Linked DNA regions of Homo sapiens: region 1 is linked to region 2. The links come from fine-mapping of genetic effects on gene expression. A gene starts in region 2. The other region holds a variant in brackets. All regions are shown on one strand. Distances are from middle to middle.

Evidence for each region. PIP is the estimated chance that this variant, and not a neighbour inherited with it, causes the effect. A credible set is the group of variants that fine-mapping cannot tell apart.
Region 1: its variant is the best candidate, but not a certain one, in a credible set for the expression of TACC1 in naive CD4 T cells (Schmiedel 2018, PIP 0.65).

What each region holds. Positions count from the first base shown.
Region 1 is chr8:38,836,449-38,844,785 of GRCh38, forward strand. It overlaps TACC1 (transforming acidic coiled-coil containing protein 1), which reads left to right. Exons shown (of 13, transcript NM_006283.3): 8 at 2,022-2,098; 9 at 3,776-3,819; 10 at 5,839-5,999; 11 at 6,841-6,947. Among named protein-coding and RNA genes, the nearest start is that of TACC1, 53 kb to the left of the region's middle. The variant T/TA (reference allele first, on the strand shown) is at 3,611.
Region 2 is chr8:38,783,958-38,792,294 of GRCh38, forward strand. TACC1 (transforming acidic coiled-coil containing protein 1) reads left to right here and starts at 3,279. Exons shown (of 13, transcript NM_006283.3): 1 at 3,279-3,786; 2 at 4,747-4,862. The coding sequence starts at 3,626. RefSeq lists an enhancer at 2,883-2,962 and a silencer at 3,003-3,542.

The DNA of each region.
Region 1 (8,337 bases), 52 kb after region 2:
GCTGGAGTCCTGACATTCTGGTCTCCAGGGTAAAATGTTGACAATCTGAAATATTCTTAAGAATTTTGTACCCTTCTTTATCTTTCAGCCCTGACATTTAAAATACCTAATTTTGCCAGCTTTGCTCCCATGTGTAACTAAATCAGTGCTTTTATTTTACAGAGGATATATGCTAATGCCTAAAAACATTTGTAATTTTTTTGCAGTAATACACAGTTGTTTCCTACTTTCATCCATTCTTTAAACCGTTCAACTCTCCGATTCCTGTATTGTGTTTCTTGAACAGCCTTTGTTCAAAATAGATCACTGCTAGGCCTTTCCTGGTTATCTGAAAAATACGAAAGACACTGTTGTGTACCATTAATAAGTTGCCCACCCTCTCCTGTCATATATCTATGCTGTATTTTGTGTGTTTGTTTTGTGTGTTTCTTGACAATTCCACCTGTTCTTAAAGGAAGGTGTGGCAATTTTATTTTTATAGTTTTTAGTTTTATAGTTTTTTTTAGTTTTAATTTTTATAGTATGCTGAAAGTGGTTAAGCACCTCAGCTGTAGGTCTTTTACAGCTTTCTAAAATAGCATCAAGTTGGTAATGAGGGATGTCAGCTAGTCCTGTTTTCAAAACTTGGGAGCAGTGGTAATAAGGCCCACCAAAATCTTTTTTTTTTTTTTTTTTTGAGATAAAATCTTGGCGCAGTAGCTCATGCCTGTAATCCCAGTGCTTTGGGAGGCCAAGGCGGGCGGATCACCTGAGTTCAGGAATTCGAGACCAGACTGACCAACGTGGAGAAACCCCATCTCTACTAAAAAAAAAAAAAATACAAAATTAGCTGGGCGTGGTGGTGCATGCCTGTAATCCCAGCTACTTGGGAGGCTGAGGTGGGAGAATCGCTTGAACCTGGGAGACGAAGGTTGTGGTGAGCCGAGATCGCACCATTGCACTCCAACCTGGGCAACAAGAGCGAAACTCCATCTCAGAAAAATAAAAATAAAATAAAAGACAAGATCTCACTCTGTCACCCAGGCTGAGTGCAGTGGCACAATTATAGCTCATTGCAGCCTCGAACTCCTAGGGTCAAGCGATCCTCTTGCCTCAGCTGCCTGAGTAGCTGGGACTGCAAGCACGCACCACTGTCCCTGGCCAAAATCTTGTAAATGAGAAAAATGACTTGATGTTTTTCCTGGGAGTTAAACTATGAGATCACCACCTAATGGATCAAAGTAAAGAGGTGCCTGATTACCTGAAGCACACAGGATACATCCTTCTATGTTCTTGAGATCCTAATAAATATAATGAAACTACCAATTAGGAAGAGAGCGGCACGGCCAGGGAAGTACAGTAAGAGGCTGCCCATGCAAGCCCAGCCCAGGGCAAATAGAGTTTGAGGCAATGAATTTAGAGTATTTCCTTCCAGTTAGCAAGAGCATCCCAAATATGAGCCTAGGTTCCAGGCTAACTAGCAAGACTCTACCCATAAGTGACGGATGCTATAGCTAGATGTAGCCAGCTCATCTGAGCCCCCTCCTTCTGACTCCATTTCTATGAAGCTGTCAGAAATCTCTATAGAAAGAGAATGTGTTGCTCATGCCAACTTCCAGTGGTCTGACTTTGTGGCAGTTTCACTCTGGTGGCCTGGCATCAGCCGTGATTACATGGCCTTAGTTAAGAGTGAATACCTGCCAATCAGATGGCTCTGTTCTTGGTGTCTGTCCCAGTCAGGGCCTGGCCCTGCAGAGCTGAGAGCTAGACCCTGGACCAAGGTAAAGTTCACAGAGGCTGTAAATACTACTTGGGATTTCTGAGAGATGTTCTACTCATCTTTATTCCCGTGTCTGCATCCCAGCATTCAGTGTGGCTTAGAATACACTTTTCCAAATGGTTACAAACATTTAATATTGAAGTTTATATTTCTAATATAGATTGAACATCTTGGGTTAGACCTGGTTGTGTGCTATTTCAGTTCCCAGTCTTAAATGCAAATTGTAATAGATTGGGTAAAACTAAGCTTTATTGTACTCTAGATAATTACTAAAGAGATTGAAGCAAATGAATGGAAGAAGAAATACGAAGAGACCCGGCAAGAAGTTTTGGAGATGAGGTTAGACTGGAGGTTTTGGGGAGGGGCTGGATACTTTTATGCACTGTTAGATTTGATACAGATGAAGTGATGACAGTGTTTGCTTGCCACAGAACCAAGTGTTGAGAGCTTGAGGGCTTTGCTGTTTGCACCTTGCTTTGTGATTGAGAATGTTATTTCAGGAGTTATTGCTAACCAGTTATTATATTCAAATACTGTAGTTTATCTTGGGTTGTTCAGAACATATAACATGTAAACAGAACCCACATAATTCTTATCTTCTTAGAACTGACAGAAATTTGTATCAAAATATCCATTTGGAATACAGAAAAATAAGATTTATCCAATGATAGAGACACTGAAATTCATAATACTACTTTTTTTTTTTTGAGGCAGGGTCTCACTCTGTCATCCAGGCTGGAGTGCAGTGGTGTGATCATGGCTCACTGCAGCCTCAACCTCCTGGGATCAACTGATCCTCTCCCCTCTGCCTCCCAAGTAGCTGGGACCACAGGCATGTGCCACCATGCCTGCATAATTTTTTTTAGAGATGAGGTCTCGCTCTGTTGCCCAGGCTGGTTTGTAACTCCTGAGCTCAAGCAATGCACCTGCCTCAGCCTCCCAAAGTGCTGGGATTGCAGGCATGAGCCACAGCGCCTGGTCCATAATACTTTTTAAAAATTAATTATGCATGAGAGTTTCAAATTACATAACCACCAAATAGATGATAGAAAGCTTGTTAACAAGAAACAAAATTGATTGACTTGAAATCGAAATCTTTTTATTTTTCCTCACTTTTAGAAAGGAGAGTTATGAGCCATGAAATGACTAAAGATGAAATCAAAGTAGAGAAGAAAAAAAGGCATAAATAATTCACACACAGTGTGGTCAACACTTGAATGATTAAAAAACATTTTAAGTATATCCCTCTAATTTGTTGCTCTTTTATTATTTGTCTTTTAAGCATTTCCTAGGTGTAAGGCCCTTTGCTGGGCTTGATGGAAAGGAAGGGACATTCCTGCTCTTAGAGAGCGGTAGCCATCCATAATAACCAACTTGGATATGACGTCAAAAGTGATGGGGGCACCACCATTGAGGGCAGGGGAGGACGTGATGCGACTCACAGAGCACCCAGCACCGGACTGGGTCAGAAGGACATTGTCATTCTTCACTAGAAGAAAGGTTAACCCAAGAGGTTGATCTTTAAAGTCTTTGAATAAGTGAAATACTTTTGGAATTAGGACACAAAATAAAACTTGTCACTGAATCAGAGGTAGAGTGTCTGAAAGGGTGGATTGACTCAGGAAAGTCTAAAGTCAGATCGCATCTGTTAGGAAGAGCCCAGAAGAATATCTTTAACTTAGTTTGTAAAAGATTGACTCATCTAAGCAGAATGAATCTATTTCCTTGCAGTATTCAAATAGGTGCAAAGAGAAAGGGAAGGCAGTTGGTTCTATAAGTAAAATATAAGTTTGACTAAAGATAAAATCTTAACAAAAACCTTTTTAGAACCTTAAGAAACCTTATATAATG[T/TA]AAAAAAAAAAAAAAAAAAAAGATAACGAGAGCCCCAAAGCAGATAAATGGATTACATACATTGTCAGTGTATGTTAATGTGTTTAATTGTTTGGGACAGCATTTCTCCAACTTTCATTGTCTGAAAATCCTCCTCTGGTAATAAGTTCTTTTTTTCTCATTTAGGAAAATTGTAGCTGAATATGAAAAGACTATTGCTCAAATGATTGGTAAGGAGAACATTTTGTTTTTTGAGGGTATGAGCCATAGGATCTGTCTTAGTCTGTTCAGCCTGGTATAACAAAATATGTAAGCTAGGTAGCTTATAAACAACAAACATTTTTCATAGCTCTGGAGACAGGAGAGTTCAAGGTGCCCACAGATGAGATGTCTGGGGAGGGCCCATTCCTCATAGAAGGGGCTGGCTAGCTCTCTGGGGTCTCTTTTATAAGGACACTAATCCTGACATAATCACCTCCCAAATTCCCTTCCATGCCCACTTTCACCCTGAACATACTCACACACTGGGGATTAGGTTTCAATACACAAATTTGGGGTTGGGGGGTGGCATAAACTATAAGACCATAGCCGGATCCATTTATGATTTTCAGACCATGTCACAAACTTGTATTTGTCTGTCACTTAGATACAGTCGTCTCATTATTCGTGGGAGGTATGTTCTGTAAAGTTGCTGCAAACACTGAGTTAGTGAATACTAAACACTGCTCCTGGCCTGGCATGGTGTCTCACGCCTGTAATCCCAGCACTTTGGGAGGCTTGGGTAGGTGGATCACCTGAGGTTGAGAGTTCGAAAACAGCCTGACCAACATGGAGAAACCCCGTCTCTACTAATAATACAAAATTAGCTGGGCGTGGTGGTGCATGCCTGTAATCCCAGCTACTCGGGAGGCTGAGGCAGGAGAATCGCTTGAACCTGGGAGGCGGAAGTTATGGTGAGCCGAGATCGTGCCACTGCACTCCAGCCTGGGCAATGAGCAAAATTCCATCTCAAAAAATAAATAAGTAAATAAACACTGCTCCTAGGGAAAAGACAGAGTTAGAGTCTTGCATCTGGCCACAACATTTTCATTGATTGATCAGTATATAACCTTGTTTTACGTGTGTTCCTGTTTAAAGACACCTTATTTAATATATATAGTTGATTCATTAACATTGAGCTCACAGTCAGCGGCACTTTGGCTCACGTCTGAACAGAGCTTCTGTAATGTATGTATTTTAAGGAACCTTACTGCCTTCTTGTGCTTGGTATCACTAGACAGCACTGTGGCACTGCCCTTGGAGGCCACTTAAAACAGTGAAGTCTCCGGCAAAAAGAACACAAGTGCAACAAACATGGCCTGAATAGACCAAAAGAAGAACACTTGTTTATAGAATGAATCAAGAAGGCAGAGTATTGCTTTGTTCACTGTCAGCTGAGAGCGTGCATATCAGGTGACTAAAGCATTTTTGCACTCTGCACACATCCACAAATGACTGTCAAAGTCCAGGAGGATAGATTTTAGGATTACAAATAAATTTTAGCAAGTAGGTGAATTGGGAGGTATGGACTTGGTGAATAATGAGGGTCAACTGTAGTTAGGTTCATTTTAGAAGATGGCAGGCCTTGAATTCTGTGACTGTTGGTGGCCTGGTCACATCACTAACACCCACTGGGAGCATCCTGTGTTTTGGTGCAGGGTTCTTACTCTAGTGCAGATTGTAATTTCTCTGCATCAGACCCAGCGGTGCCTTTACAAAACAACAGGGATTGATCCTCCTGCATGGAATTTAGAGTCTCTTCTCATCTATATCATAAGGATTGACTCCCTAAACCAGAGTCTGTCCTTTCTCCACTAAATTGCCGAAATGATACTTTCTATCATCCACATCACCTAATGCCTTCCCAGCTCAGGGCCTTACCACAGCTGTTCTTCTCTATGGAATATTCTCCCAGGTAGCTGTATGGCTCACATCCTCATTTCTGTCCGGTCTATGCTCAGATCTCTCCCTGAGAGCAGGTACTCTCTGTACAGTAACAGCCCCCTCCCCGCCCCCATTCCTCCTTACCCTGCCTTGTTCTTTCCCCATCACTTGTTACCACGCGTCTCCCCCAACTAGAGTATAAGCCATAAGAGCGGGAATTTGGTCACATCCCCGGCTGTGTCCCTACCACGAGAACACTGCTTGTCTTCTAAGGAGTGTCTATTTTTTGAATAAATATGTCATTCCTTTTGACTTGTGATTCCCAGAAGATGAACAAAGGACAAGTATGACCTCTCAGAAGAGCTTCCAGCAACTGACCATGGAGAAGGAACAGGCCCTGGCTGACCTTAACTCTGTGGAAAGGTCCCTTTCTGATCTCTTCAGGAGATATGAGAACCTGAAAGGTGTTCTGGAAGGGTTCAAGAAGGTAGAGTGTTTTTTCCCTCTGTCTCCTGGTGTATTTCCAGTAGTGTATTTCCTTGGTAACTGGTCATCAAATACATATGCCAGAGGTTGTGGGTATCCTTTTAAATAGGAGCTCAGGGCCTACTGGCCTTGTATCCTCTATTCCAGTGAAGCTGGATTTTTTTCCACATTTTTCCTTCTTTGGTTGTTCAGGCATCTGGCCCACTGGGTGCCATGTCTTGGCCATTCCTCTCCTGTGTCAAGCCAATAAGCCCCAGGCTGTGGCGTAGACTGCAAGAACTGTTAATTGAACCCTCAGACCTCAGGTGAATTCTAGAAATGTTCTTTCTGGTAATTCACCTTTTCAGTTTTAGTAAAAGGGATTAGAAGGAATTCCATGTCTCTGAAAAATTCAAGCTGCATATTCTAGAAGACATTAGTATAATGTTTCAAATTTAGATGTAAATGGGCCTGTTGATTTAATTTAACTTTACCATATCAACCAGACACAATTATAGCAATGAAATGGCTTTATTTTCATATTAAAATAAAAATGAAACTGGCCAGTTTATCAAATATGGAAATCGAATTGCCATTCAGTTTTGAATAACTGCCTTCCTAAAGTAGGCATATTGGTATAACTGACCCTTACTGTATGATATTGAAAATTAACACATGAAGACATTATGTAGAATTTCCTCAGTGAGAATTACATGTGGCTATTTCAAATTACTGCAGAGTATGAATAAAAGCCATCTGAATTAATTAGATTTTTCCATTCTTTAAAAAATGAAAACTCTGATATGTGGTAGATTAGAAGAAACAAAATGACCTGTTTATTTTCAATTTTTGCTTTGGAACAGAATGAAGAAGCCTTGAAGAAATGTGCTCAGGATTACTTAGCCAGAGTTAAACAAGAGGAGCAGCGATACCAGGCCCTGAAAATCCACGCAGAAGAGAAACTGGACAAGTAAGAGCTTGTAAATGTTGAATTTCACTCTTCATGATGTTGTGGGAAGATTGAGAGAGGAAAACAAAATCACTGTTTCGCAACTCCAGGTTGTATTTTTATGTGTGTGTTTATTTCACTTTTTAAACCCTTTTCCCATTGTTAAAACATTAAAAAGTAAAAAAAGGTATATCTGCTCCTGCCTCCTTCCACTGGGTTCCCATCTTTCTCTATGCCAGGTAATCACCATTGTTGGTTTCTGTTTTTTCTTCCTATTACAATTTTTTTCTTTTTTATATGATTATAGCATACTTCGCTATTTTTGCTTAGCAATATAATTTTGAGAATCTTTCCATGTCAGTGCAAGAAGAGCTTCCTCTTTTTTTTCTAATAGCCACATGGTATTCCATTGTTGGAATGTATCATTTATTTAACAATCCCCTCCTGTTAGACATTAAAGTTAATTCAAATGTCTTGCTGCCACAGACAGTGCTGTAATAAGTGACCTGGTAGGTGATCGTTTTGCATGCCTGTGAGTTATCTTTATGATCTGTATGTTAGAAAAGGAATTGCTAGACCAAAGCATATATGAATTTATAATTATAAGTGTTGTCAGATTGGCCCCATTAGACTTTTATCATTTGATAGCCCTAGATAATATATGAGAGCATCTCTTTTTTCTACAACTGTGCCAATAGGTCAACGTTTTTATTTTCTGCAAATCAAATAGGTGAAAATGGTATTTCAACATAGGTATTTGTTTTTGGCAAGCAACAGAGCATTTATTTATTTATTTTATTATTATTATTATTTTTTGAGACGGAGTTTCTCTCTGTCACCCAGGCTGGAGTGGAGCGGTGCAATCTAGGCTCACTGCAACCTCAGTCTCCCGGGTTCAAGTGATTCTCCTGCCTCAGCCTCCCAAGTAGCTTGGATTACAGGCACACGCCACCACACCCGGCTAATTTTTTGTATTTTTAGTAGAGACAGGGTTTCACCATGTTGGCCAGGCTGGTCTGGAACTCCTGACCTCAGGTGATCCGCCCGCCTCAGCTTCCCAAAGTGCTGGGATTACAGGTGTGAGCCACCGCGCCCAGCCCCAGAGCATTTATTTTAATCAATGTAATTTTGATTTGCATCTATCTTATGAATGAAATTGAATATATTTCACCATTCATTTATTAATATATTTGCTTTACTATGAATTACTCTATTCTTTGCCCATTTTCCTATTGTCATTTTATAGATTTTATATATTAGGGACACCAGCCCTTTGTGATAAGAATTTTGAATAATTTTTCAAGTTTATCATTTGTCTTTTGCGTCCACCTATAGTGTTTTTTGATATTCAGAAATTTACTTTTATGTGCTGAAATGTATTAGTCATTTCTTTTACAGCTTCTGGATTCTT
Region 2 (8,337 bases):
GATGCTGTTATTGGCAATGTTGTCTTGATTAGACATCATCATGCCCTTGCCTGGTTAGACTGAGGTAGGGCAGAAAAGCAGATAGGGTGGCCACAGCCTCCTGTTGGCAATGGCACGTCTTCACTGACAGGGCTAGAGTGTTCCTAGTTGTGACTTTGCAACCTGTACCAGGTAAGAACGAAGCCAGGACTAGGAGCAGCAGACTGAGAGGAGTGGTCCAGCTAATGGACTCATATTCATTACTGCTTACACTAAGTTCAAGAACTTGCAGAGGAGTGATTTTCAGAAACCTTAGGCATTTATTTGCTAGTCCAGTCTCAAGAAGTTGCTGCAGGCCGGGTGCGGTGGCTCACACCTATAATCCCAGAACTTTGGAAGTGGGTGGATCACCTGAGGTCAGGAGTTCAAGACCAGCCTGGCCAACATGATGAAACCCCGTCTCTACTAAAAAATAAAAAAATTAGCTGGGCATGGTGGCAGGAACCTGTAATCCCAGCTACTTGGGAGGCTGAGGCAGGGAGAATCGCTTGAACCCAGGAGGCGGAGGTTGCAGTCAGCTGAGACTGCACCACCGTGCTCCAGCCTGGGTGACAGAGTGAGACTCCATCTCAAAAAAAAAAAAAAGTAAATTGCTGCATAGGTGAGGCTTAATCTTACTGGGGCCATCACTTGGTCCTGGGTTCTGTTATTTTCTGGCCCAGAAACTAGATTTCCCCAGGGGGAGTCAGGCTTTAGGAATTTATGTCACCTTAGCCAAACTCACAAGGACTATTTGTAAACTAGAATGTTTGTTTTTTCTTACATATATATTGAACACCTACTGAGTGTGTGGTTCTGTCCTAATTTCTGGAGGAAGTCCCAAAGGGGGGTAAAGTCCCTTTAGAAGCTTGTGGGACAGATATGTAAATAAATATGTTATATATGGTGTGCTAAGTGTAGAATGGCCTTACATCCTGGTCTTCTGGAGACAGTCCTGGTTTATGCCTATAGTCCCTGTGTAACTATTAAGAATGCTGTCTTTCACTTTCAGATCTAAGGCCACAGGAAGTGTTCTTTATGGATGTTCGGGGTATAGAAATGATAGAAAGGAAGGACAATGAGCCTGCTTCCCCCTGTAGACACTTGAGCTAAGTGCTGAAGGACGTTCGAGCAGCTGAAGCCTGGGAACTTGGGGTGGGCTGGGGTGGGGGAGGAGGTGTGTTCCAGGAATTCGCAAAGCTCCCTCTGCAGGCAAAGGGAGACTGTTCCCGAAGCAGTAAGCAGTTGGTTCAAGCTAGGCACTGTTTCCCAAATTTACCCTGTGATAACAGTTCCCCAGGACACTTAGTGAACACACAGATTTCCAGACTCTGCTGGCAATTTGGATTTTTTTAAGAAGGCTGGCGGATGATTCTTGGGCATATTAAAGATTGACAACGAGTTCTCTACTCACTGTGGCTAGGAATACAAAAGGATGGGCATAGAGGGGAATGGGAACCGAAAGATTAGAGCACGAGTCACTGATCAGCCAGGCAGGGGTGACCTCAGGCAAGAAAACCTTCAGAGGTAAAACCAGGTGGGAGTTATTTACAGTAGATCATGAAAGATGGGGAGTGCGGGAACTATGTCAGTCACCACAGGGATGCAAAGGAATGAAAAGATAAGAGAACTATTCAGGAGGAAGAACAGGTCCTAGTGTATGCTAGTTACTGATTTGCTGGGGTAATATTATTTCCCAGAAACAGAACCCTGTGTCAAATCCAGGAGCCTGGGGGACTGTAGAACCTGAAGTTTTACTGGGTAAGCATAAACCTAAAACTACAACAGTTGGATAAGTGGTGTGATATATTTCACATGGACCTCCTGCCTAGTTCACTTCTTTATAGTCGCTAGAACACTCATGACAATTTATTTCTGGGAAGAAGCCAGGATGAATTCGAAAGCATCCTGACACCCCACCCCTTTCTTTTCTCTAGACTTCAGGTTAACTCCTGCCCTTCGGTTTTGGTAAAACTACCCTGCCAAGCCTTATCTTGTATTTTGCTCCTGTTTTTGTTATCAAATGTGTAAAACAGTCACGATGAATATACATGCCAACTGCTTTCAGAGGCAACGGTTAGTCTCTTGCAAGTTTCAACGTGCACATTTTGGAGCTGCTGTCTCTGTGGGAACCTGCAGGCACCTCATGGATGCACCACAACTCGGAAATTACAGTACCACCTGGAACACCTTATCCAGGCAAGGAGATCATTAAGCCTGGTGTTTGAGGCAATCGATTCACTTGGAAGAAGGTGCTTTGGTGGTTTTGAGAGGAACAATCCCTACATGAAATCCCTCCATGGGAAATGGAGAACATCAGCTATTTCCCATTGCCTTCAAACCTAAAGATGTCGCCAGGCCTCTTGGCTTGTTACTGAAGCAGCGAAATAAGTCAGAAATCAAAGACTTAGAAGTTACGAAAAGAAAATCTCAAAAAGGAGAATGGGGTCAGGCGCGGTGTCAGGCCTGGAATCCTAGCATTTTGGGAGGCAGAGGCGGGAGGATCGCTTGTGGCCAAGAGTTCAAGACCAGCCTGGGCAACATATCGAGACGCCTGTCTGTATTTTAAATAAATAAATATGGAGAATGGGAAACCCATCAGGCTGTAATCTCACAGGGAATTTAGTACCCTTTACCTAAGACAAGACCTGGGCACTTGGGAAGCCTCCCCGAGTGCGGTTTGGGGAGGGGGAGGGCATCTTAAATTCCAGTCCTCGGTCACTCTTGTGGCTTTGCCAAGGGATTTTCAAATCCCGGGAATGCCAGGGATGGAGATGAACAGGCTGAAATCCCCCACGCTGCCAGGGTTAGGGAGGGGAAAACAACAGTCCACAGCGGCCGCGAAGGTTTGTATTTTTTTTTTTTTGGTAACAAGGGGCTTGTGTGCAGTCCAATATCACCATCGCCGTGAAGTCACAGTGGCAAGATGAAAATGTTTAAAAAAATTTTAAAAAGGAATAAGGAAAGAGGAAGAGGACAGCGTGCCCCGGCTCAGAAAACGGTCCTCCTCTGCCCCGGACGCCGGCGGACCTGTGGGGTATGACCGAATCTCCCCGCGCAGCCGGCAAGCCCCGGCCCTCAGTCGGGCCGCGACCAGCGTGACGCCGCGGTAGGGGGATCCGGCGGGCGCGCGGCCGTCTTCAAAGCCCCGGCGCCGCCGCCGCCCCCGCGCGCGCGCGCGAGTAGTACGGTCCGAGGGGGCGGCTTCTGGGGCGCGGCTCCGGCGGCAGCTGATGCGCGCCCCGCCGGCCGGGAGGCGGGAGTCCGCGAGCCGGGAGCGGGAGCAGCAGAGGTCTAGCAGCCGGGCGCCGCGGGCCGGGGGCCTGAGGAGGCCACAGGACGGGCGTCTTCCCGGCTAGTGGAGCCCGGCGCGGGGCCCGCTGCGGCCGCACCGTGAGGGGAGGAGGCCGAGGAGGACGCAGCGCCGGCTGCCGGCGGGAGGAAGCGCTCCACCAGGGCCCCCGACGGCACTCGTTTAACCACATCCGCGCCTCTGCTGGAAACGCTTGCTGGCGCCTGTCACCGGTTCCCTCCATTTTGAAAGGGAAAAAGGCTCTCCCCACCCATTCCCCTGCCCCTAGGAGCTGGAGCCGGAGGAGCCGCGCTCATGGCGTTCAGCCCGTGGCAGATCCTGTCCCCCGTGCAGTGGGCGAAATGGACGTGGTCTGCGGTACGCGGCGGGGCCGCCGGCGAGGACGAGGCTGGCGGGCCCGAGGGCGACCCCGAGGAGGAGGATTCGCAAGCCGAGACCAAATCCTTGAGTTTCAGGCAAGTACACGGCGTCCCCGCTGAGATGCAGACGCGCTTGCCTCCATCCATCTGCGACTCCCTCTGTGTGCGTGTGTGTGGTCGCCACCCGCGAAACCGTCCTCACGGCCGTGCCGCGTCCCTGCCCGGAGCCGGGTCCCCGTGTGCGTCCGAAAGTTCAGGATCTTCTGTCCTCCCGTGGGGTTTCTGGCCCCCGTTTCGCTAGGAGAGTTCCGCACCCAACCCAGAATCTGCAGTCTCTCCGCATCCCCGCTGGCCTCGGTCACTTTCTCTAAGCTTCGACCCCCAGCCCCCGCCCCTCCACACTGGAGCAACGTCACTGATCTAACCCAGTGCAACTTAGGGCCCCCCCGTGGGGAAGAAGTCGCTCCCCGGCCCTTCCCGGGGCCCTACCGTGTACCCAAAACGCAGCCGCGGTGAAGAAGGTCGCGTGATGACAGGCCCCTGGCAGCTGCTGGGAAATGGTGGTCTCTGCCGGGCTGTCATCCGCGTGATTGCGGAAGGCAGGTGACACCATTCTTAGCCTCGGGCCCAGGGAGTTCCAGCAGGTAGAGGCCTACCGAGCAAAGAGGAATGCCTAGCATCGGCCTAACTCGGGGGTGGGACCAGTATTAATTGTTAAAGCCTCTGGGAAAGGGCTCTTGTGACAAAAGGAGTCTGTTGGAAAAGCGCATTTTTCAGGTGTCTGAGGGAAGGATGACCTCGAAAATAAATGGTGCTGGAGAAAAGCTCCAGGGAATGGAGGAGCTTTCAGAGAGACAGGATGCCAGCCTGAGAAACCCAAGGAGGGCACTGCTCAGAGACCGCAGTTGCCTCCCGCAGGTCAGACCCTGCTGAGGACCGGTTGGTTGTGAAGTTAGACAAAAGTGCTGGACTTTTAGCCTCTGTGAATATGTAGATTTCAAAGGGTGTCGGAAATACCGTTGAAAGTGGTAATTCCTCATTTTTCCTCCTTGGCAGCTCGGATTCTGAAGGTAATTTTGAGACTCCTGAAGCTGAAACCCCGATCCGATCACCTTTCAAGGAGTCCTGTGATCCATCACTCGGATTGGCAGGACCTGGGGCCAAAAGCCAAGGTAAAGAAAAACTTGCATTTTTCCTGCCTGTTTTGTTTCAAAAGTTTTGAAAAATATCAATGAAGGAAGGAAAAAAGTGTAAATTTAGGACCATTTAAGAGAGTTTGACTAAGAAAGAGCTGTTTGAAACCTCCTGGCTTATGTATTTTTAGGGGTGTGGTGATCGAGGCTTTCTCCTCTGAGTAGAGTTTGTGCATTTGCAGTATAAGATTATCATTATCAAACATTCCTACTAGGCCTTTCTCCTCAGCCCCTAAAAAAATATGTATAGTAATGAAGTAGGAAGATCATGTTTATATTTGACTTCACAAATTCCTCAGGCTAAGTTGCTTTCTACTGGGGTGTGGCTGGAGACAAAAATTACAGGTAAGACTTGACTTAATTTTTGATAGGGAGGTTCTTAAGAGGCTTTTTCGGAATCACTCACCTCGCCCACTTCCATGCAGGGATGTGGTGAGAGCCCTTCAGTCTACTTAGGAAAACCTGGCACATGGATTCCCTCCCAGCCCCTCAGAGCCCAGCCCTTCATCTGCAGGAGCTTCCGTTGTCTCACTTAATTAGTAGAAACCTTTTTTGTCACACAGCCAGTTCAGAATAAAATTTCACCTATCCCAACAGAATTCATATGCTTATTTACTAAATAGAGTGCACTGTGATTCAGCAGTGAAGTCCTGCTCTCTCGAGCTAACATTGTGGAGGGAGAACCTGTGAAGGGTTAAGCAAAATATCTATGTCAGCTTGTGTGAAGCACTGTGGAGAAAAATAAAGCAGGGGAAGAGAATAGGGAATATGGAGTGGGGATAGGGAAGGCTGAAGGGGAGTTAGTGGGGGCATTCATGATTAGGTGACTTGAACAGAGACCTGAAGGCAGATTGAGGGAGCAGGCCTTGGAGGTTCCTGAGGTGGGAACCCTTCCAGCAGAAGGAGTGGCATCTGCAAAGGTCTGACAGCACCAGCCTGCTGCAGGGAGGCCGTAAGGTGGAGGGTTCATGGTACAGTTTGAGGACCAGCCAGGAGGTCAGTGTGGACTGACTACTCAGAGAGCAGGAGGAGCTGAAGTCAGCGTGGTCAGAGGAGGTCCAGATGCTGCTGCAGTGAGGATTTGGTTTTCAGTAAGGTGGAAAGCCACTGGAGGGCATATGCATTTCCAAGGGCTGCCATAACAGAGTAACTTAGCGGCTTACAATAACAGAAATTATTCTCTCACAGTCCTGGATAATTGAAATCAGAACCAGAAGTCTCAAGTCAAGGTGTTGGCAGGGCCTTGCTCTTCTGAAGGCTCCAGGAAGTCTGTCCTTGCCTCTTCTAGCCTCTGCTGGGTGTCTGCAATCCTTTGTGTTCTTTGGCTTGTGGCAGCAGAACTCCAGTCTCTGTCTCAACACATGGCCATCTTCTCCCTATGTATCTGTCTTACCGTGCCCTTCCTGTGAGGACACCAGTCGTTGAAGTTAGGGCCCACCCTAATCCAGTTTGACCTCATCTTAACTTGGTAACATCTTCAGAGATACTATTTCTAGATAAGGTCACATTCATAGGTACTAGGAGTTGGGACTTTAACATATCATTTTGAGAGACATAATTCAGCCCACAACAGAGAGCTTTGAACAGAGGGATTGTGATTCAGCTTCTTTTGTAAAAGGCTCCCTGGGCTGCTGTGTGGAGAAGGGACTCTAGGATGGAAGTCCTTTTTATGTGGTTTCTCTGTTCCAGTATCTGGCACTGTCACCCTGAAGTGGCAGCGCCAGCTTTCAGTTATCTAGCTACCTAAACTTTGTGCTGATTGTGACTTTCTCCTCTCCCTAATAAGTATTTTTATTGCTTAGCAACTTCTTCGTAGGTTGCCTAGGGAAGTCAAGTTACTCTGGTAATAGACTGCATGATGGAGCTGGAATTATTGGTAAAATGACATCAGCAAAAAGCTGATTTGGTTTTGCTTTAAATTGATAGCTCCATGCTGTGCTTACCCAGCTGAGAATTCAGCAATACCCTCAACTTGCCCTAGGCTGCATTTTGCCATTGTTCTAGGCAGGGACAACATGGGAATAGGCAAGCTTATATACTGGAGAATTTGTGTGCGACGCATAGCTGTGTAGCACTCTCAGTGATGAAGATAACACTTATTCCTCATAGCTTCCCTTTTCTTCCGTAAAGATTGGCAGATCAGAAGGGAGATTTTGAAGCTTGAAAGAACTATTTGGTGGCCTTTCCATCAAATTTAAATAAAGCTCATAAGACACATGTTAAGGAGCTGTTTGAAAGCCTTTTTGAATTGCCATCAGCTTGGGCGGCCCTTCCTCATCGTTTTGTCAGCTGCTAGACTGATTCATCCCGCCAGATTCTTTGCCAATTGAATAGAGGCCTGGATGACCTAGGCCCCCAAAACCACAGAGACCCAATTGTTTGGTCCTTCCTGTACCAGTGACTCTCACATTTTTTTCATTCTCTCTAAAAGGAAAACTTTTAAATGTTTATGGATCATGAAGGCTCTATGGGGTAGTTCATGAATGCAGACTGTAATTGTAGGGGTAGAGGAGTGTCCAGTCCAGGAAACAACCCTGCATATTATGAAGGCTTTCAGTTTAGGGTCTTTAAACAATAGGATGATTGCTCATCAACCTGGTCGTACCCTGACTTCCAGGGTCCTTGGGTGCAACATCCGGAGCTAGTCCAGAGTACCGCCAATGGCCTTGTCACACATACACAGCAAATGTGCAAAGACAGCCAGAGCACAGGTCTGCCTGGAGAGGATTTCAGTGGGCAGAAAGCCCTTCAGAGTCATTTCATATTGAAGTTTAATTTCTGGGACTGGATAAGTTCCCTTTCTCCCAAAATTATTGATTGTTTTGTTCCTGGTAAAGATAGTCTTTCATACTTTTGTGGTTCCAAGACATGGTTGGACCGCAGTTATAAATTATATAAGACTAAATCATTCTGGAAGAATGATTTACGAGGAGTTAGTCAGGAGTTGGAGTTGAAATATGTAAACATTCTGGCTTCCTGGTACATAATGGCCCTCAAACGTGTGGGCTACATTTACCATACCCATGGCTCCTGTGCTGACTTCTGTATAGTTCTTTGAACTCAGGGAAACATCTAAGACTATTTTGAAATGACTTTTCTTATACTGGAACTGCTTTAGGAACTTGCAGTATCTAAACTCTATAATGACTCTTCCTAAGAGTTGTATGCCAGGAGTTAAGTGGCGGATAAGGTTGTAGATTTTTTTTGAAGCCACATATAGAAGCAGGTTTTAGGCTTACTGGTAAAATAAAACTCTAGCTAAAGATATTTCCTGGAAATAACCAGACTGGTAGCTGTAAAGCTTGGGCTGGTCTGTATTTGCTATCTGTCTGTTTTCTCCCACTAAAGTTGTTTAATGCTGCTGCTGTTGTGGTGGTCTTTCTCTTTGCTGGGAAATATATTGGTGAAGAAACATCCTCTAGGAATGGACTTTTGAGGAGGTACAATCTCAAGT